Linked DNA regions of Homo sapiens. Each later gene encodes a partner of the first gene's protein in a complex. Each region holds a gene or a part of one and is shown on either strand. Other genes may lie near its edges. A codon is read from its position in the direction of its gene.

Region 1 (5,513 bases):
TACTATTTTATGTAAGGGACTTCACTATCTGCAGATTTTGGTATCCTTGAGGGACACTAGAACCAATCCCCCATGGATACCTAAGGATAAGTGTATCCACTCAATCCTTGGAGGTATCACTAGCAGCCAACAGTTTGCTTGCATATATTTCTAGAGTTTCTTTTCTTTACATATACTACGGCATTTTTTTTTTTTTGCCAACTGTAAATAGGATATTATAAATGCTTATGTCTTTGTTTTCTTCTTAGAACATAAAACTCAGCCTCATTGAGTTGTGACTTGAAAGCTCTGCCTCATTGTTCTCTCCCTCCAGGATCAGTGAGGAGGAGGACCTGCACCTGGGGACATCGTTTTCTGCAGAAACCAACCGAAGGGATGAGGATGCAGACATGTAAGTGTCAGTCTGTTTGGCTGTGAGCAGTTGGGGCTGGACTCCAGTCAGAGTCCAAGATATTTAGTCAACAGATGACATTTCTAGAATTTTCTAGAAGATGTCAAAGTTGGCCCCTCTCTTTCTACTTCCCAGCTTAAGAACTTTGAAAACCTCTTAAAAGGTCTTTTCAGGCCGGGCACGGTAGCTCTCACCTGTAGTCCCAGCACTTTGGGAGGCCGAGGCAGGTGGATCATCTGAGGTGGGGAGTTCGAGACCAGACTGACCAACATGGAGAAACCCCGTCCCTACTGAAAATACAAAATTAGCTGGGTGTGGTAGTGGGCACCTGTAATCCCAGCTACTCGGGAGGCTGAGGCAGGAGAATTGCTTGAACCTGGGAGGCAGAGCTTGCGGCGAGCCAAGATCTCGCCATTGCACTCCAGCCTGGGCAACAAGAGTGAAACTCCGTCTCCAAAATATAAAAAATAAAAACTTGTTTTCAAAGGTGGTTTCATGACTAGTAATATTTCCCCAAAACATTGCAGGGATAAAACATGGGCTTGCCCACTTTTTATTTTGCCAACAAAGCTATTGGCAAACTATCATCTTTCTGTCTTCAAAGAACCTTGTACATCATAACACCAATAGATTAGTGGGACATAACCTCATAGGTTGGTGCTTCTTTAGAAAATTTCTAACTTGATGAAAAAACTCAAGTTATTTTTTTTCTCGTTTCTCCATGGACTGTCACTGGTCTGCGGGCCAGTGTTGGGGACCACTGATTTAGAGGACACCTGGTGTGTGTTTCCCACCCCTCCCTGAGGCCTCTGGGTTTCTCACTTCAGGATGAAGTACATTGAGACAGAGCTAAAGAAGAGGAAAGGGATCGTGGAACATGAGGAACAGAAAGTTAAGCCAAAGAATGCAGAGGACTGTCTTTATGAACTTCCAGAAAACATCCGTGTTTCCTCAGCAAAGAAGACCGAGGAGATGCTTTCCAACCAGATGCTGAGTGGCATTCCTGAGGTGGACCTGGGCATCGAGTATGTTTGAGACCCCTAGGCAGAAGACACAGTGCTTTCCAGTTAAAAGTTATGGGGGACAGGCCAGGCACGGTGGCTCATGCCTGTAATCCTAGCACTTTGGGAGGCTGAGGCGGGTGGATCACGAGGTCAGGAGTTCAAGACCAGCCCGGCCAAGATGGTCGAACCCCGTCTCTACTAAAAATACAAAAATTAGCTGGGCATGGTGGCAGGCACCTGTAGTCCAGCTACTTGGGAGGCTGAGGCAGGAAATTGCTTGAACCCTGAAGGTGGAGGTTGCAGTGAGGCGAGATCATGCCACTGCACTCCAGTCTGGCGACAGAGCAAGACTCCATCTCAAAAAAAAAGGAAAAAAAAATTTATGGGGGACAGGTATGGTGGCTGATGCCTATAAGCCTATAATCCCAGTACTTGGGAGGCCAAGGCAGGAGGATCACGTGAGGCCAGGAGATCAGCCTGAGAAATATAGTCAGACTCCTGTCTCTCAAAAAAATTTAAAAAATTAGCTGGGCTGTCACTTGAGCTCAGGAGTTGAGGCTACAGTGAGCCATGATTGCACCACTGCACACCAGTCTGGGTGACAGAGTAAGACCCTTTAAAAAAAAAAAAAAAAGGCCAGACATGGTGACTTGTGCCTGTTATCCTAGCTCTTTGGGAGGCCAAGGTGGGAGGATCACTTGAGCCCAGGAGTTCAAGACCAGCCTGGGCAATGTAATGAGACCCCATGTTCTTATCTGTGTCCTTAGAATCCTACAAATACAAATGAGATTGTCCCTGGCAGGTTGTTGCTAGAAGTTTCGCTGAAGGCTTGATCAGAGTAGTAAGGGCCCCTGACTGCTGGAAGCAAAAGTGGTTCTTTAGCGTGTTACAGCTGTTCAGCTGTATCAGGCCCTTTATTCTTCTGTTTTCTTCTAGCAGGAGCCATGTTAAAGGCTCACTCACCCCTTCTCCCCATGATCCTTCTTAAAATATCCACTTTAAAAGGGAATTGTTATGGAAGAGGTACAATTGTTAGAATAATCTTCTGGTACAGTAGAAAGCTGGGAGGCTTCTGGGCTCTTTTCTGGCCTTTACAAACTTTGAGCCTTAAGCATTTTACTTCTCTGAAGCTCAATTTGCTCTTGATCAGAAGAGCAGAGTAACTGTGGTTCTCCGACAGCCGTGAGAGTCCCGTGAGAATGTGACTACAAGTGTGCTTGATAAAGTGGAGAGCTGTGCCCCAGGACACATGATTTTCTTATGTACTGCTGGGCTGCCAGCCTCACCACTCATGTCTGAGTAGTAAGGTGCTATCATCTTCTAAGTGGTGTGGTTTCTTTCTCTCCATAGTGCTAAAATAAAAAATATCATTTCCACGGAGGATGCCAAGGCCCGTCTGCTGGCAGAGCAGCAGAACAAGAAGAAAGACAGCGAGACCTCCTTCGTGCCTACCAACATGGCTGTGAATTATGTGCAGCACAACAGATGTAAGCCCCTCGGAGAGCAGTCTTGCCCCCATTCCCCTATTTGGGCTGAGATCCCTAGGAACCTCATGTTCTAACGTGTCCCCTGGTCTCTTTGGGTCCAGTTTATCATGAGGAGCTCAACGCGCCCATACGGAGAAACAAAGAAGAGCCCAAGGCCCGGCCCTTGAGAGTAGGTGACACGGAGAAGCCAGAGCCTGAGCGTGAGTGCAACAAAGGCCTCGGGGCTGCCTGGAGTGCTCAGCAATGTGGGAACCCATGGAGGCAGGATGCAGCGGGGGACAGGGTGGAGCCTGGCATTGGAGCCGGGGCATATGGGTTCCAGTCCATGCTCTGGACCATGACTATGTGCCTTCCCCTTTCTAAGCCTCAGTTTCCTCATTGGAATCCTAATAGAACCTACCTGTTAGGATTACTCTGAGAATTCATACTCTCTCATATTCTCACGCACAGTAGAGACTCAAGAAGTTAGAAAATTTCAGTAAGGACAAATAAAAGCTACTCATAAGGTTAGCTGGGTGCAGTGCCTCACACTTGTAGTCTCAGCTGCTGGGGAAGCTGGGACAGGAGGATTGCTTGAGACTAAGAGTTCAAGGCTGCAGTGAGCTATGATTGGACCACTGCACTCTAGCCTGCGTGACAGAGTGAGACCACATCTTTTTTTTAAAGAAAAGAAAAAGGTATTGGCCATGCTCGGTGGCCCATGCCTGTAATCCCAGCACTTTGGGAGGCAGAGGCAGGCAGATCACCTAAGGTCAGGAGTTCAAGACGAGCCTGGCCAACATGGTGAACCCCGTCTCTACTAAAAATACAAAAATTAGCCAGGTGAGGTGGCAGGTGCCTGTAATCCCAGCTACTCAGGAGGCTGAGGCAGGAGAATCACTTGAACTCGGGAGTTGGAGGTTGCAGTGAGCTGAGATCATGCCATTACACTCTAGCCTGGGCAACAGGGTGAGACTCCATCTCAAAAAAAAGAAAAGAAAAGAAAAAAAAAAAGACAAATACGTATCTACTGAGGCCCTACTGTGTTCACTGGGTTAGGCGCTGGGGCTCCTGTGGGGAAGGAAACAGGCAGTTGTCTTTGCCTGCATGGAGTAAAGTCTAGCAGTGGGTTCCAGCATGGCAAACCACCTTTCCTGTTCTTTTCCTTCTCAGGGTCCCCTCCTAACCGCAAGCGTCCTGCTAACGAGAAGGCAACTGATGACTATCATTATGAGAAGTTCAAGAAAATGAATAGGCGGTACTGAGTTGTGCAGAGTGGGATGTAAATATCGCCTTCCTCTCCCTATATCCCTCCCATGAAAAATGGCTTCCTGGCCGGGCGTGGTGGCTCCTGCCTGTAATCCCAGCACTTTGGGAGGCCGAGGTGGGCGGATCACCTGAGGTCGGGAGTTTGAGACCAGCCTGACCAACATGGAGAAACCCAGTCTCTACTGAAAATACAGAAAAGTTAGCCAGGCGTGGTGGCACATGCCTGTAATCCCAGCTGCTCAGGAGGCTGAGGCAGGAGAATTGCTTGAACCCAAGAGGCGGAGGTTGTGGTGAGCCGAGATTGCACCTTTGTACTCCAGCCTGGGCAACGAGCAAAAAACTCTGTCTCAAAAAAAAAAAAAAAAAAAAAAAAGAAAAAGAAAAATGGCTTCCAGGACAGAGCATGCTCATTTGCTGGCGGACAGTTCCAGAAACAGACCCTGTTAGTCCTTCTACTTACCTGCTGGATTTTTCAAGCACTAAATTTATAACTTTTTGAAACAAAATAATGTGTAATTTTCCATTTGGGGGCAAACTCTATTCTTGTGAGCATTATTAAATCTTGTTTGTAAATATATTGTCTTTCTCTTAATATTTGCTCTGGGTCAGGAAGAAGCTGTTCACGGTGTGATAATACTCTTTAGATTGTGCTTTCATTATTATAGATGCATCATGTCTTCTGCTTTCACGTGTCTGGGATGGGGTCAGAAATGCATCCTCCAGCTGACAGAAAAATCCAGGATGAGATCAGAAGGATACTGGTGTTTTCTGACTTTTACAAAATTACTTGTTTGTTTTCATTAAAAAAAAAGCATAAACTATGTTTCTTATTACTATTAGAATTATTAAATTTCAAAATGAATCCAACCTTATTGTTTGTATTATGTTTCTTATACCAGCATCAGGTAATGTTTTTAAAGCCCATGGTTTGGGTAGCCTAAATGTAAAACTGAATTACTGAGATGGATTTTCTCATTTATTTCAAACAGTGAGCTATGATTGGACCACTGCAGCATAGACATGCTGCAACCTGCTGTCAAGTACCTTCTTACCTGTGCCCTCATTTTTCCTGAGGCATCCACAGGGGTCCAAAAGAGGAAAGAGCAGATTGGCTGACTTCTGGGTGGATTTAGAGCAGGTATTGTGGTTACAGTGGTTTGGCCCAGGAGTCAGATCTGAGCCCACCTCGCAGCTTACTACTTGTGTCCTTGGACAGATCCTTTTCACTCTTAGCCTCAGTTTTCTCATCTGTAAAATGGAGATTTTTTTTTTTCCTCCACTTGAATATGGTCAGTGAAGGCAGGAACCATGTGTGCCTAATTTTTAAATTTGAATCCCCAGGGCATAGCCCATAATCTGACAGATAGGCAGTCCTCAAAACTA
Region 2 (7,773 bases), on another chromosome or scaffold:
AGTCATCAATAGGAGGATGAGATTGGGAGAGACACTCGGTGCAGGAGGCTGAGTGAGCAGGGGAGCACTAAGACCCAGGGGTAGTGGAGGACTGCAGCAACGAGCTGGAGGAGGAGAAGTAAGCGGTGGGGGGTGGGAGCCATCTGGTACTTTGACAGCATTCAAAACAGCATCGGCCATAACAACAGAAATGGCCAGTCAGTCCCAAGGTATCCAGCAGCTTCTGCAAGCTGAGAAGCGGGCAGCTGAGAAGGTGGCAGATGCCAGAAAGAGTGAGTCTCCTCTTTCCTCCCTTAGGAGTTTGGAAAGAAAATTGGGGGTGGGGGACAGCAAACATTTTGGGAAAACCCAAGGCTGGCGGGAAGACAGACAGCTAGGGTCTGGAGGCTGGTTAGGAGGGAAGAAATGGATGGATATTAGAATCTGGCACCTGGTTGGCTGAGAGAAGGCTGTATAACTTTCTGGAAGGGACTGACTCCTGCTATTACATTGTGTGTGTGTGGGTCCATCCCCACTCACTGTCCTTTCTTCTGCCTCCAGGGAAGGCCCGGCGACTGAAGCAGGCAAAGGAGGAGGCACAGATGGAGGTGGAGCAATACCGCAGAGAGCGAGAGCACGAATTCCAGAGCAAGCAGCAGGCGGTGAGTTGAGGCAGAGTCGGGTTGAGACCCCACTGCAAGTTGGTGGGTGCATCTAGTGAGGTGTGTAAGGGTGACTCAACAAGAAAATATGGTGGCAGAGGGCTGAGGCTGAGGGGACCCTGGCAGGGACCACAACATTGGTGAAACTTTGTGATGATATGTAGGAGAGTCTGGGAGTTTTGAAGGCCACATAGAGCTTGTGGGCGGAATGCCACAGTCTGTGTAAAGTATAACATCTATGTGGAGTATGATTAACATTTGTGGTGGAGGGTAGAGTTTTATGGTCATGGATGGTGAGGTGGTGGGGATATTACGGTCTGTTTTAGGATGAAGTTGCATGTTAGGTCTAAGGGGAAAGGGGACTGTGTTGATCTCTTTGGTGTTGGGATATTTCTGTGGGATGGGGGTGGTTTCTGAGAGGGCCTTTCTTCTAGGCTTTGTTTCAGGATCTTTCCCCTCATATGCCTGGACCCTTGTCTGTTTCTGCTTTTCCCTTTCTCTCTTCCACCCCTCTCCCTACCCCCCAGGCCATGGGCTCCCAGGGGAACCTGTCTGCTGAGGTGGAGCAGGCTACAAGGCGCCAGGTGCAGGGCATGCAGAGCTCCCAGCAGAGAAACCGAGAGCGTGTCCTGGCCCAGCTTCTTGGCATGGTCTGCGACGTCAGGCCCCAGGTCCACCCCAACTACCGGATTTCTGCCTAGGGCCACCGTAGGGCCTGACTCCTTCTGCCAGTTCCCTCCCTCAAAGAAATCCTCCAATCAAAATCACCTCCCACCATAATCCCTGTCTTCTTTCCATCCCCTAGAAATCCTGGGAGGCAGGATCCAATAATTTTCCTGTGACACTTATAAATATCCTGCTCACATCTGAATCTCCTTGTTGTTCTTTAACCCTCACTGGGACTTTGTAAACTTCCAAGTCATTCTCACCTAAACCCTCTGTGAAATTTGTAATATGGGGAAGTAGGAATGTGGAAAACATCCTGACTTCAGTGTCTGGCCGATGTGGGTCCCTCTCTTGACCCTGTCACTTGCTGGCTGTGAAACCAGGACAAGCTACTTAACTTGGTAGCCTCGATGTCCTCCTCTGTGAAACTGGGATGATAATAATGCCTACCTTGTGAGGGTTGCTTCAATGATTAGGAATCATTCTGTAAAGTCTAGCACAGTTCCTTGCATGTTGTAGCAGTGATTCAGTAAGTAGCAACCCTGTGATACTATTACCACCACCTGCTCACTGGTCAAAACCTACACAGCTGTTTCCTCACGTCCATCACTGGCTCTCTAATTCCACTTGTTCATTCTGTGACCCTAGTTATTTTCTGAAAAATTGGTTCTTCTCTTTTCCCAGAGACCTTCTGATCTCCAAAAAGAGGAGATGACTACATTTAGCCCCTCTCTTATAATTCCAGGTAGATAACTGCATTTTGTAGCCTCTCTTTGTTTTTCTTTTGCTGATCTTTGTCTTTATTAGATTTTCCTCCTTTCCTATTTCCCCAAAGACTTATCAGATGCTCATTGCTTTCTAAGATCTAAAATGATACTGTGTTCCCTCATATGCATGCCCTTCCTTTCTATATCCTTGACACCTTACTTTCCCATTGTAACAATAAAAAAAGTATCAATAAAATAATTATTGGCAAATAAATTGGTGAGTTGAAGCAGCCTCCTTTTGCCTCATCATTTCTCATTTTCAGTCACTTTGTTTTTTTTTTTTTTGAGATGGAGTTTTGCTCTTGTTGCCCAGGCTGGAATACAATGGCGTGATCTCAGCTCATTGCAACCTCTGCCTCCCAGGTTCAAGCGATTCTCCTGCCTCAGCCTCCCAAGTTGCTGGAATTATGGGTGTGTGCCACCACGCCTGGCTATTTTTTGTATTTTTAGTAGAGATGGGGTTTCGCCATGTTGGTCAGGCTGGTCTCAAACTCCTGACCTCAAGTGATCCACCTGCCTTGGCCTCCCAAAGTGCTGAGATTAGAGGTGTGAGCCACTGTGCCTGGCCTTCAGTCACTTTCTTGTTTTTTGTTTACATATTCCCTAAACAGCCCAAATGGCTATCCTTTGAAACTTCTTGGAGAAACAAGAACAAGTAGTACTTTATTATTTCTCTAAAGTGAGAAACATGGTTCCTCATTTGGGAATCTGAGGACTATAGATCGCAACTGTAGAGAAAAGCTGGAGTGTAGGAGCAAGTGCTCTTTGCCCCTTTACCTTGCATTTTCTTCATAGCACTTACTGCTACTGGTTTTTTGAGACAAGGTCCTGCTGTGTTGCCCAGGCTGGAGTTCCAGCTCACGGCAGCCTTGACCCCCTGGACTCAAATGATCCTCCCACTTCAGCCTCCTGAGTAGCTGGGATTACGGGCGAGTGCCACTATGCCTTGCTAATTTTAAAATTTTTTGTAGAGATGGGGTCTCACTTGCCCAGGCTGGTCTGAAACTCCTGGGCTCAAGCAATCCTTCGGGCTCGGCTTCCTCAAGGGTTGGGTTACAGGCCTGAGCCACTGCACCCTGACCACTTATCGATACTTGACATTATATTTGTGTTTATGTGTTTTCTTTCCTGTAATGTAAACACTGTGAGAACAGGGCTGTTCACCGTTGTGTCCCCAGATCCTAGGACAACATGTGGCACAAGGGAGGCAGTTGATAAATACTTTTGAATAAATTAAATGATACTTGGGAAAATACCTTCTATGACACCATTCTTGAATTAGTTACTTCATTTGTCACTGAAGACAAGCTTACTTCACCAAGAATTTGAACCAATAAGGTAACCTGCAGTGTATTTACTAACCAGATTCTTTGAGCAGGGAGGCAGAATACAATAGAGAATGAGAGATGTTTGCATCCTGGCTGTAACCTCACCAGCCGTACTGCTTGAGATATGTTGCTTTGCTTCGCTTCTGTCAATAAGATGAGAATAACGGTACCTACTCCTTAGTATTAAATGATTAAGTATGTTAACAGGGAGAGGGCCAAACGTTTGTTGTTTTATTACACAGCAGGACATCAGGTCTTACTTTTGTAGCTCCCCATCTCAAAGACGGGGATAGCAAATGTTTCATTCAGGAAAAAAATCCAGGTTGAACAATGGGGCTGTTGGGGCGGGGCCAAGAACATTCTGCTCGAATTAACAGTATTAATGGGCCGGGCGCGGTGGCTCACGCCTGTAATCCCAGCACTCTGGGAGGCCGAAGTGGGTGGATCACCTGAGGTCATACATGGGTGAAGCCCCGTCTCTACTAAAAAAACAAAAATTTGCTGGGCGTGGTGGCGGGCGCCTGTAATCCTAGCTACTCGGGAGGCTGAGGCAGGAGAATCGCTTGAACCCGGGAAGCAGCGGTTGCAGTGAGCCGAGATCAGGACATTGCACTCCCGCCTGGGCGACAGGGCGAGACTCTGTCTCAAAACAAAAACAAAAACAGTATTAATGGAATGTAGTATAACCCTCAAGCCCTACTATTAACACTTGGGGCCGAATCCAGACCCCGTCTTCCCGCTCGGATTCAGAACACCTTCCTGACTCACTGGCCCTAGGGCATCAGCTACCTCGGACAGCATCCTTTTGGGAAAATACCGCCCACCAGCCCCACGACTGGGAAAGAGTCGGGAAACACCCCCGAGCAATCCAGTTCCCTGAGACTTCCCTCCTCCCTCCCCTCAGCTAGGGCCTGCCGGTTCCTAGTGCGTGCCCAGCAGTCCTCAGGTCACCTTCACTACCGGGCCAAGGACCCCGTGGGAACTCGCAGCCTTCGCCACACTCGTTCCTCGCGCATCCATGGAGGGGTGCCTACAGAGAAGACCTGCGTGGCAAAAACCTAAACGAAGAGATGAGGGGCATGGAGAGGAGTAGGATAAGAGAATAAAGATAACAGTGGGGGGGAGACGTTAGTTTCCTTTATATCTTTTGTTACTGGCGGTAGCAGTGAAGTTAGAAACGGTTTTAAAACAAATTTCAGACAGGCATTTTCCAAAGGCAAGCCTGGAGCGCACGGATCTGTATAACCGCGGAAGGCCCTGTTTCCGGTCCCTTGCGCCTGCGCTCTTGCAGCCAAGAAGGCGGGAGGCTGGAGTAGAGGGAAGCCTGCAACCGGAAGTGAAGGCAGATTTCCCTCCTTCGTCGCTGTTGCTGCCGCCATACGCGCTCTCCCTGTTTAGGTAAGCTTTGGCCTTCGCTACAATCCGTTTCCATCTGCGCTTCTCCGCACCCATCCCGTCACATGGGTTCCTGATACCCTTTTCACAGGCGATGGTCTGGTCGCTGGGGCCTAGTTGGTTCGCTATTTCCTTAGCTTGCATCCCTTTCGAGAGCAAAGAGCTCCTGGGGGAAGGAAGGGAAGCTAAGGGGGGACCCAATCCAAGATGGTGTCCTCGGCGCCATTGTGTTCGTTTTGCTCCCTTCTTCCAATGGGTTCTTCTCATATTGGAGGCCTCAGCATCAATGAGAGGCGGCGCTCGGCGTCCCTTGGTCTTGGTATTTGCGGAGGGCGGGGCTCTTCTCACCTTCCTTGTCCTTTCTTGAGCTCTTTCTCGGCCCTCGGTGGGACTGGGAGGAGGAGCTGGTTTCTGGGCCCAGTTGGATTTTTCTCACCTTGACTTGCCCAACTTAATTTGGAGTGCCTTCCAAGTGTTTACGATACGATTGGTGTCATTGTATGTTTCTCCAAAAGGAGTCTCACCTTCGTAGCGTAACAGTGATGTGAGACCACTTGGTAAAGATCCTGTTAAAGCCTGGGCGGGGATTGCCTTTCTCTGTCACCTATTAGCTTTCTTATTGTAGGGTGGAGACATGAATTTTGTTTTTTTGTGGCCGAGCCATTTGTCTTGCACCGCCCCTCCCCCCCATGCTAATTACACAAGGCTTGCTTAAACAGCGGAAGGGAGGATACTGAGAAGTGGGAGGCTGAGAGCTATGGGAGGTGGACGGCGGCCATATGATGTTTTCTTTTCGAAAGGTGAGCGCTTTGCGCAGTGATGACCCTCATCTATCACCCTTGACTGATGGCTGCTGAGTTAGGCATCCATAACGGTGGGATTATAATAGGGAAAGCGGAGTCTTCCTTTGAGGACTTTTCAGGACTCTACTTGTCATCTCCATTTTCCACTTTACTAAGTTATTAGTCGTATTTTACCTTTTATTATCTATTCTATTTCCTCACTGTTACTTTCAGATCAAGAATTTATAAGTTGGTCTTCCCCTTCCAACTTTTCTGGTTTCCGCTACTGTGATTGCTAATCTTGTTGGGAACCTCTGTCCTAACCACTTTCCCTGGTACTGCTTTTTCTGTTCTGTTATATTTGCTTTTCGTTTTTATGTTTTGTATCTGTTTTTCTTTCCAGGTAAAAGTTTCCTGGTTTAGGGAAAGTGGGAACTGGGGATGGAAAAGAGGTGGTGAAGGCTGTGCTCGTGATTAAGTCTTGCTTTTTTTTTTCCCCCCTCCAGCTCTTCTGTTAGAAATAGTATCTTTGTTTTCCTTTGCTGTTCCTCAATCCCCTACTCTTCACCCCTTGTTTTCACCTATTTTGCGAGAACCCATCCAGATCCCCCTTCCCTTCTTCCCCTGCCGGCCCAGTTATGGCAGAGAACGATGTGGACAATGAGCTCTTGGACTATGAAGATGATGAGGTGGAGACAGCAGCTGGGGGAGATGGGGCTGAGGCCCCTGCCAAGAAGGATGTCAAGGGCTCCTATGTCTCCATCCACAGCTCTGGCTTTCGTGACTTCCTGCTCAAGCCAGAGTTGCTCCGGGCCATTGTCGACTGTGGCTTTGAGCATCCGTCAGAAGGTAAATTTTCTCTTGGGCATGTAGTGCTCATTGGGCTCTTTAAGGGTACAATACAAAGATGTGTTTGTCGTTGCTCAGGTGGTGGTAAGGGTTTATACTTAAGGCTAGATCAGGGCCAGGTGCAGTGGCTCACGCCTGTAATCCCAGCACTTTGGGAGGCCGAGGCAGGAGGGTGGCCACTTGAGCTCAAAAGTGCAAGAGAAGCCTGGGCAACACAGCGAGACTCCTGTCTCTACAAAACGTTCAGAAATTAAGCAGGTGAAGGTTGAGGCTTCAGTGAGCCGTGATTGCACCACTGTGCACCAGCCGGGGCGACAGTGAGGAAGAAAAAATCAGGGGATAAGTATCAAAAACAATTTTGGATAGAGGAGGCTTATACAGGCTTATTCTTTCTTTCGTGATAGCACCAAAGTGCTAATGATCCAAAAGTGACTTCCAGGTCTGCCATTCATTCTTGTGACTGGCTTTTCTTGTCTGCTTATTTTTAATTTTGTCACTTGACTTCTAATTTTAAATTTCCAGAAAGGTCCTGCTTGGACCTGTAGTCTCCCTCTGTTGGGCCAGGCCAACTGTGGTCTCTGGAAACCTCTATGACTGGTTTAGAGATGACTGGCTTCTGGGTCAGGTACCAAGTCCTTCATTTTGTCCAGGGTTGTAGTAGTTACGTGACCCGAAGTATAGCAACCTAAGCAGGAGAAGTGGTCTGTGGCAGGTATTCAAATGTCATGAATTGTTACAGATTAAGAAAAATAAGGACAGAGCTAGGATCATTGAAGGTGAGCGGTTGGTAGATGCAAGGGGTTTGTTACTAGGACTGGGAAGGCCTAGATCTGGAGGAGGCTAAAGCTAGGAGGAATTAGGAGAGTCTGATTTTGAGGTGAATGTAATTGAGCAGAGAGAGGTAAAATGGGTCTGGAAGTTGGCAAGAACCAGGTAAATACTAGACTTTGAGAATTGAGTGGTAAGAAATGGGCTTGGCATGGTGAAAAAGGTAGAGTTATCTGGAGACTGAAGTCTAATTTATCTTCCTCCCCCCCCAACTTTTAGTCCAGCATGAGTGCATCCCTCAGGCCATTCTGGGAATGGATGTCCTGTGCCAGGCCAAGTCGGGCATGGGAAAGACAGCAGTGTTTGTCTTGGCCACACTGCAACAGCTGGAGCCAGTTACTGGGCAGGTATATTTGGGGAGAGTGCTGGGGAGGGGATTTTGGTTAGGACTATAAGGGAAGGGTGTTTTTGTCCTAGCTACATGATGCTTGCAGAGCCATGAGCACATGACCTCTGTTACCCTTGACAACCTGACAGCTGTGGGGGATGTTCTGTCGCAAGCGTGGGGTTCATGATT
Region 3 (7,027 bases), on another chromosome or scaffold:
CAGACATCTTGTAGATTAGGAAAAGTGACTTGGTCGAGGTCATACACCTATATAGTGACAAGTAAGAAGCTAGAGGAGTGCCGAGCGCAGTGGCTCATGCCTGTAATCCCAGCACTTTGGGAGGCTGAGGCGGGCGGATCACTTGAGGTCAGGAGTTCAAGACCAGTGTGGCTAACATAGTGAAACCCCCGTCTCTACTAAAAATAACAAAAATTAGCTGAGTGTGGTGGCAGGCGCCTGTAATCCCAGCTACTTGGGAAGCTGAGGCAGGAGAATCAGTTAAACCTGGGAGGCAGAGGCTACAGTGAGCTGAGATCCCACCATTGCACTCTAGCCTGGGCAACAGAGTGAGACTCCAACTCAAAAAAAAAAAAAAAAAAAAAGCCTGGGTGTGGTGGCTCACACCTGTAATCCCAGCACTTTGGGAGGGCAAGGTGGGCAGATCACCTGATGTCAGGAGTTCAAGACCAGCCTGGCCAACATGACAAAACCCCGTCTCTACAAAAATTAGCCAGGTTTGATGGCAGGTGCCTGTTATTCAAGCCACTCACCTGTAATTCAAGCCACTTGGGAGGCTGAGGTTGGAGAATCACTTGAACCCAGGAGGCAGAGGTTGCAGTGAGCCAAGATCGCGCCATTGCACTCCAGTCTGGGCAACAGAGTGGTACCCCGTCTCAAAAAAAAAAAAAAAAAAAAAAGGGCCAGGTGTGGTGGCTCATGCCTGTAATCCCAGCACTTTGGGAGGCCAAGGCGGGTGGATCACAAGGTCAGGAGTTCGAGACCAGTCTGGCCAATGTGGTGAAACCCTGTTTCTACTAAATATACAAAAATTAGCCTGGTGTGGTGGCACGCGCCTGTAATCCCAGCTACCTGGGAGGCTGAGGCAGGAGAATCGCTGGAACCCAGGAGGCGGAGGTTGCAGTGAGCCGAGATAGCACCACTGCACTCCAGCCTGAGCAACAGAGCGAGACTCCATCTCAAAAAAAAAGAAGTTAGAAGAGTCAGTCATTCTCATAAAAAAGCCTGCATAATTTGTTGTTGTTTTTTTTTTAAGACAATCTTGTTCTGTCGTTTAGGCTGGAATGCGGTGGTATGATCTCAGCCCACTACAGCCTCTGCCTGCCAGGCTCAAGCAATCATCCTGCCTCAGTCTCCCAAGTAGCTGGGACTACCAGCATGTGCCACCACTCCCAGCTAATTTTTCCTTTTTTTTGTATAGATGGGTTTTCACCATGTTGCCCAGGCTGGTCTTGAATTCCTGAGCTCAAGTGATCCACCCACCTCAGCCTCCCAAAGTGCTGGGATTACAGGTGTGAGTTATAGTGCCTGGCCCAACGCTTAATAACTTTTTCCTGAAATGCAGATTAGTTTGAAATGAATTTTATTTACGGGTTCATTTTTAATGTTTGAACCTGCTTCTAGGTAGGGTTAAAGTTGGGTGACTTGATGACTCACGAAATACACAACTATGAAGTTTGGAAAGTGTGGTGGTATGCACCTGTAGTCCCACCTGCTCTGGAGGCTAAAGTGAGAGGATCACTTGAGCCTAGGAGGTAAAGGCTGCAGTGAGCCGTGGCTGTGCCACTGCACTCCAGTATGGACAGCAGAGCAAGACCCTGTATCAAAAAACAAATAAAAACAATAATAATTTTTTTTAATTAAAGGAGAAAAGTTTGGGAAGTTTGACTTACATATTTGATCCTCGAATAGGGAGTTATTTTGGTTTTGGCATTAGATAGTTTTGTAGCTTGGTTCATGGCACTTGAGCAGCAAATTCATGGCCCTTACACTGAATACTAAAATGTTATACAGGCCAGCCAGTGAAGCTAGTTGTAAGTGCAGAGATTCATAAACAGAGTCGTCCCGTGATTTGTCCGTGTCTCCCCGTATTAACATTTTACTCTTACTTGGCGAAGGGAGTTGGGCTTCCTGAGCATGGTCTCCGTGTTGAGGTGGCTTTTCCTTCTTTCCCTGCTTCTGTCACCAGCTATGTGGATTACCCCATCTATGACGTGCTTCAGATGGTGGGCCACGCCAACCGCCCTTTGCAGGACGATGAGGGGCGCTGTGTCATCATGTGTCAGGGCTCCAAGAAGGTCAGTCCTAGACTCATGGAGCCTCTTGGATCCGTAGCCTCAGAATGGATTCTTTAATCTTTCTTTTGATAGATGTCTTCAGTAACTTTAGTCTCTTAACTTCTGCCTCTCTTATTTACACAATTCTTTTGTGACGAGCCTGCCACCCACATGGAATTTTGCTGCCTTTTGCTTTTGCTGCTGCCGTTGGCTCCACGTGTTGAGGTCTTCACCCTCTACTTGGTTCTCTCCTTCCTCCTTGGGCTGCTCACTGCTCTGCCCTCGTGACTTGCTGTACCTCTGTTCCCACTGCGTATTGTCACCAGTGATGCACTTTCTAAATGTGTGGCTTCTTCCATTTTGGTATTAGTTAGGTCTCACACAGGGACCATGCCCTGTTGATTTGCCCTTGGCCCTCTGTGACCGTGTTGTCACTAATTCTTTATTACTCCTTCTCCCTCTCCAACCCACAGGATTTCTTCAAGAAGTTCTTATATGAGCCATTGCCAGTAGAATCTCACCTGGACCACTGTATGCATGACCACTTCAATGCTGAGATCGTCACCAAGACCATTGAGAACAAGCAGGATGCTGTGGACTACCTCACCTGGACCTTTCTGTACCGCCGCATGACACAGAACCCCAATTACTACAACCTGCAGGGTCAGTGGGCTTGGGAGCACACGTGATCCTTTGGTGGTTCTCACAGTCTTTGCTGGGCATCTTCTTGAGGCTCCCCACTCACCTCTCGCCTCCATAGGCATCTCCCATCGTCACTTGTCGGACCACTTGTCAGAGCTGGTGGAGCAGACCCTGAGTGACCTGGAGCAGTCCAAGTGCATCAGCATCGAGGACGAGATGGACGTGGCGCCTCTGAACCTAGGCATGATCGCCGCCTACTATTACATCAACTACACCACCATTGGTGAGGCCCGGCATGGCCCGTGTCCTGTCTGTGGGAGCCTTTTTACACGGGTCAGGAGCCCACTGGGATGAGAGGTGCGCCCGTGTTTGTCAGCGGGATGACACTGCAGGGGACAGCAGGGGAGCCCGGGCAGTTCTGCTCCTTCTCTGCCTGGTTTTAGCTTCTCTCACATTTCCTTTTTCTGTCAGAGCTCTTCAGCATGTCCCTCAATGCCAAGACCAAGGTGCGAGGGCTTATCGAGATCATCTCCAATGCAGCAGAGTATGAGAACATTCCCATCCGGCACCATGAAGACAATCTCCTGAGGCAGGTGAGGACAGCAGACTTCAGGAGAGCATCCTGGGAACAACAAACTCGGCCTGTGTGCCCAGAGCACATGGCATCCCTGCCACCAACACGCCCATACGCATCCCCCGACCCCCGCCATATGTCCTCCCGCTCCATACCTCCCTCAAACCCATCTCCATCCCATTACCACCCACATGCCTCAGGGTGTTGAAGGGCTGTGTGAGCCTGGGCCACGTGGTGCTTTGGCCTGAGCTGGTCTCAGGCAGGGTCACCTGTTCATCACCAGCTATTTTTCTTCCACTTTGTAGTTGGCTCAGAAGGTCCCCCACAAGCTGAATAACCCTAAGTTCAATGATCCGCACGTCAAGACCAACCTGCTCCTGCAGGCTCACTTGTCTCGCATGCAGCTGAGTGCTGAGTTGCAGTCAGATACGGAGGAAATCCTTAGTAAGGTAGAGTGTGGGTGTGGGGCAGAGGGGTCAGTGGTGCTCTAAACATCTCAGCTCCAACTCCGCCCACTTTTATACTCCTTTTCCTGTTCAGGCAATCCGGCTCATCCAGGCCTGCGTGGATGTCCTTTCCAGCAATGGGTGGCTCAGCCCTGCTCTGGCAGCTATGGAACTGGCCCAGATGGTCACCCAAGCCATGTGGTCCAAGGACTCATACCTGAAGCAGCTGCCACACTTCACCTCTGAGCATATCAAACGTTGCACAGACAAGGTGAGCCGGGTCAGCCTAGAGGGTCAGGTGGGTGAGCCTGAGAGCCCAGTGTTGTGGACCGAGCGTGGGTTGCGGGAGGTGAGTCTCAGTAAGTTAAACTTTTAGTTATGGTTCCTCCGAAGGTGCTCCCTGTTGAGATGCTAGAGAGCCTGCCAACTGTGGGCTGTGTTCTTTCTGCAGCTGTTTTATCTAGATGACTTGATAGTGTAGGAGGTAAAATTAGTAGCTCTTTGCTGCCTGTGTCATTTGCTGTTGGCCCGTGTTCTCTCTTTCCTGACGTCTGAATACTCACTGCAGGGAGTGGAGAGTGTTTTCGACATCATGGAGATGGAGGATGAAGAACGGAACGCGTTGCTTCAGCTGACTGACAGCCAGATTGCAGATGTGGCTCGCTTTTGTAACCGCTACCCTAATATCGAACTATCTTATGAGGTGGTAGATAAGGACAGCATCCGCAGGTGAGCCAGAGGTGGTGCCTGTTGGGCACAGCATAATAGTGTGCTCTGAGCCCACTGCCCCATCACTGACGTGCGCCCCTCCTCTCCCCCTGCAGTGGCGGGCCAGTTGTGGTGCTGGTGCAGCTGGAGCGAGAGGAGGAAGTCACAGGCCCTGTCATTGCGCCTCTCTTCCCGCAGGTGCGTCCTGGTAGCTGGCTTGGTCAGGTGTCAACTCACCCTATCCATTGGCTAGGTGCTTGGTACAAGGGCACACTGTCCCTGAGGGAGGGAAACTTTAGACTGATAATCAGCTCACAAGGGTGAGAATTAATCTTGAGGCTATGGGGTTTTTTTTCTGTTTGTTTCTGCTTAAACAGTTTAGGGCCGGGCGCAGTGGCTCACGCCTGTAATCCCAGCACTTTGGGAGGCCAAGGCGGGCGGATCACGAGGTCAGGAGTTCGAGACCAGCCTGGCCAACATAGTGAAACCCCGTCTCTACTAAAAATACAAAAATTAGCTGTGCGTGGTGGTGGGCACCTGTAGTCCCAGCTACTCAGGAGGTTGAGTCAGGAGAATGGTGTGAACCCAGGAGGCGGAGGCTGCAGCGAGCCGAGATTGCCCCACTGCACACCAGCCCAGGCGAGTGTGAGACTTCATCTCAAAAAAAAAAAAAAAAAAAAATTTAGATGACTGGTCATTGTTAAACCCGTCAGTTGTGTAGTATTGTCCATCTCTCTGACTCTTTAAGATGCATTTGTCTTTAACTCCGATGGCTGCAGGACACTTGGGCTTTCCTGGTTGTTTCTTCTTTTTTCTCACTGCCACTTACTGTGCTTCTGGGTGCTTGGTTTTTTACCACCAGAAAGAAATTCTGGTTCTCTTTATATGGGAGAATAATTGAAGGTTGATAGCAGAAACCAGATACTGTCATGTTTAATTCTGTAAACTAATTGTTTCAAGGCTCTGAGTAAAGACTGCTTTTAACTGGGACTCTTCGTCTTTGTGACAGCGGGGCAGCCCGTAGACAGGGCTGCAAGGCCTGCTGTGGATATCTCTGTGCACATTCAGCTCTGTGTTAAGCTTTTTCTTTTTTTTTGAGACGGAGTCTCGCTCTGTCGCCCAGGCTGGACTGCAGTGGCGCGATCTCGGCTCACTGCAAGCTCCGCCTCCCGGAATCACGCCATCCTCCTGCCTCAGCCTCCCGAGTAGCTGGGACTACAGGCACCCGCCACCATGCCCGGCTAATTTCTTTTTTGTATTTTTGGTAGAGACGGAGTTTCACCATGTTAGCCAGTATGGTCTCGATCTCCTGGCCTCGTGATCCACCCGCCTCGGCCTCCCAAAGTGCTGGGATTACAGGCGTGAGCCACCGCGCCCAGCCTAAGCTTTTTCTCATCTGGCAGATTTGCCTTGTACTTAAAAGTATCTCTAAGGAACTCAAAGCTCCTAGGCCCCAAAGACTAGACCTCTAATAGTAGTACCTTGGACTTAGTGGCAGGTACTAAGTGGGAGAAGGTACCTTGGCACAAGGAAATGAGCCAGAACCAACAAATGAATTCATCTACTTAAAAAATTAAGTCTGTTTGAGACAACTTTTGATAGTATTAAAATGTTAAATCTAATTGTATTTCGGGAAGAAACTTTGGAAAGCTATCTGATTTTTGTTCTCTCTTTTGTAACTGTACCATTTTCATGGTTGCCTATGGTCATCAAGTTTTACATGCTGAAATTCTTGGTTTTGGATCACTGCAGAAACGTGAAGAGGGCTGGTGGGTGGTGATTGGAGATGCCAAGTCCAATAGCCTCATCTCCATCAAGAGGCTGACCTTGCAGCAGAAGGCCAAGGTGAGTGTGTCCACTGGCCCTAGCATTTGTTCTGGCATGGGGGAAGGGTGAGAATGCTTCCTGTGTCCATGCTCATCTTGATTTCTGCCTGCTCTTTCTAGGTGAAGTTGGACTTTGTGGCCCCAGCCACTGGTGCCCACAACTACACTCTGTACTTCATGAGTGACGCTTACATGGGATGTGACCAGGAGTACAAATTCAGCGTGGATGTGAAAGAAGCTGAGACAGACAGTGATTCAGATTGAGTCCTGAGGCATTTACTTTTGGGTAAAGGAGAGTTGAGCCTGAATTAGGAATGTGTACATTGTAGGAATCCTGGTTGTGGGGACCAGGTCTGTGGGCCTCAGGTCTGGCCAGCCAGGGCTGGTGCTGTCCCCGCCTACCTCCACTTCCTTTCCCTTGCTCACTCTGGATCCAGTGACAGCAGGTGTCATGGGTCAAGCATAAATCATATATAGCATTTTCAGGCATGTTCCTGGTAGTTCTTTTGAGTCTGACATTCTAATAAAATAATTTGTAGAAACCATTTGTCTTTGTAGTGATTCCAAATTAAAAGTTTTCTTTCTCCAACCTGAGGGCACGGCCAAAAAGATCTGGTTATTTTTTAGCCAGGAACGTGCTTGTTAATGAGTATGTCTGGAGGACAGACCTGCTCATTAGGTGTGCTGTCCCCTGTAGCCTCGTGAGTCAGCCCAGAGGAGGGTACATGCGACTGTGGCCTGGCCTCAGTGGTACCC

What was found.
Region 2: C9orf78 (region 1) and DDX39B share a complex: the UniProt entries of both Homo sapiens proteins name them as parts of the spliceosome.
Region 3: the proteins of C9orf78 (region 1) and SNRNP200 are in contact, whole or in part, in a cryo-EM structure (PDB 7OS2), measured with the Homo sapiens proteins. Residues at the interface, in NP_057604.1 of Homo sapiens: Arg5, Lys6, Ile7, Phe8, Arg9, Arg10, Arg11, Glu16, Ser17, Glu19, Glu21, Asp23, Ser24, Glu25, Val27, Arg28, Lys30, Leu31, Thr34, Arg35, Val37, Gln38, Arg41, Arg43, Pro44, Asn45, Gly46, Val47, Ser48, Ala49; in NP_054733.2 of Homo sapiens: Val1188, His1189, Leu1190, Gln1191, Glu1201, Pro1283, Ser1285, Arg1287, His1288, Leu1289, Asp1729 (codon at 2,600), His1730 (codon at 2,603), Asn1769 (codon at 2,720), Tyr1770 (codon at 2,723), Asn1772 (codon at 2,729), Gln1774 (codon at 2,735), Gly1775 (codon at 2,738), His1780 (codon at 2,850), His1784 (codon at 2,862), Leu1788 (codon at 2,874), Gln1791 (codon at 2,883), Asp1795 (codon at 2,895), Gln1798 (codon at 2,904), Ser1799 (codon at 2,907), Tyr1826 (codon at 2,988), Thr1827 (codon at 2,991), Glu1830 (codon at 3,000), Leu1831 (codon at 3,191), Met1834 (codon at 3,200), Ser1835 (codon at 3,203).

The regions. Positions count from the first base shown.
Region 1 is NC_000009.12:129,826,774-129,832,286, reverse strand, and holds the end of C9orf78 (splicing factor C9orf78), read left to right. Parts: intron 1-313; coding exon 314-391; intron 392-1,218; coding exon 1,219-1,416; intron 1,417-2,745; coding exon 2,746-2,882; intron 2,883-2,983; coding exon 2,984-3,082; intron 3,083-4,034; coding exon 4,035-4,126; 3' UTR 4,127-4,997; downstream 4,998-5,513. UniProt on the Homo sapiens protein: Plays a role in pre-mRNA splicing by promoting usage of the upstream 3'-splice site at alternative NAGNAG splice sites; these are sites featuring alternative acceptor motifs separated by only a few nucleotides. May also modulate exon inclusion events.
Region 2 is NC_000006.12:31,538,977-31,546,749, reverse strand, and holds the start of DDX39B (spliceosome RNA helicase DDX39B), read left to right. Parts: upstream 1-4,746; 5' UTR 4,747-4,800; intron 4,801-5,571; exon of another isoform or gene 5,572-5,649; intron 5,650-6,085; 5' UTR 6,086-6,217; coding exon 6,218-6,428; intron 6,429-7,475; coding exon 7,476-7,603; intron 7,604-7,773. Other genes in the region: ATP6V1G2 (V-type proton ATPase subunit G 2), read left to right, coding at 191-272, 541-641, 1,169-1,342. UniProt on the Homo sapiens protein: Involved in nuclear export of spliced and unspliced mRNA. Component of the TREX complex which is thought to couple mRNA transcription, processing and nuclear export, and specifically associates with spliced mRNA and not with unspliced pre-mRNA.
Region 3 is NC_000002.12:96,274,520-96,281,546, reverse strand, and holds part of SNRNP200 (U5 small nuclear ribonucleoprotein 200 kDa helicase), read left to right. Parts: intron 1-1,987; coding exon 1,988-2,096; intron 2,097-2,548; coding exon 2,549-2,738; intron 2,739-2,835; coding exon 2,836-3,000; intron 3,001-3,188; coding exon 3,189-3,310; intron 3,311-3,596; coding exon 3,597-3,740; intron 3,741-3,831; coding exon 3,832-4,008; intron 4,009-4,305; coding exon 4,306-4,466; intron 4,467-4,561; coding exon 4,562-4,643; intron 4,644-6,197; coding exon 6,198-6,290; intron 6,291-6,391; coding exon 6,392-6,535; 3' UTR 6,536-7,027. UniProt on the Homo sapiens protein: Catalyzes the ATP-dependent unwinding of U4/U6 RNA duplices, an essential step in the assembly of a catalytically active spliceosome. Plays a role in pre-mRNA splicing as a core component of precatalytic, catalytic and postcatalytic spliceosomal complexes.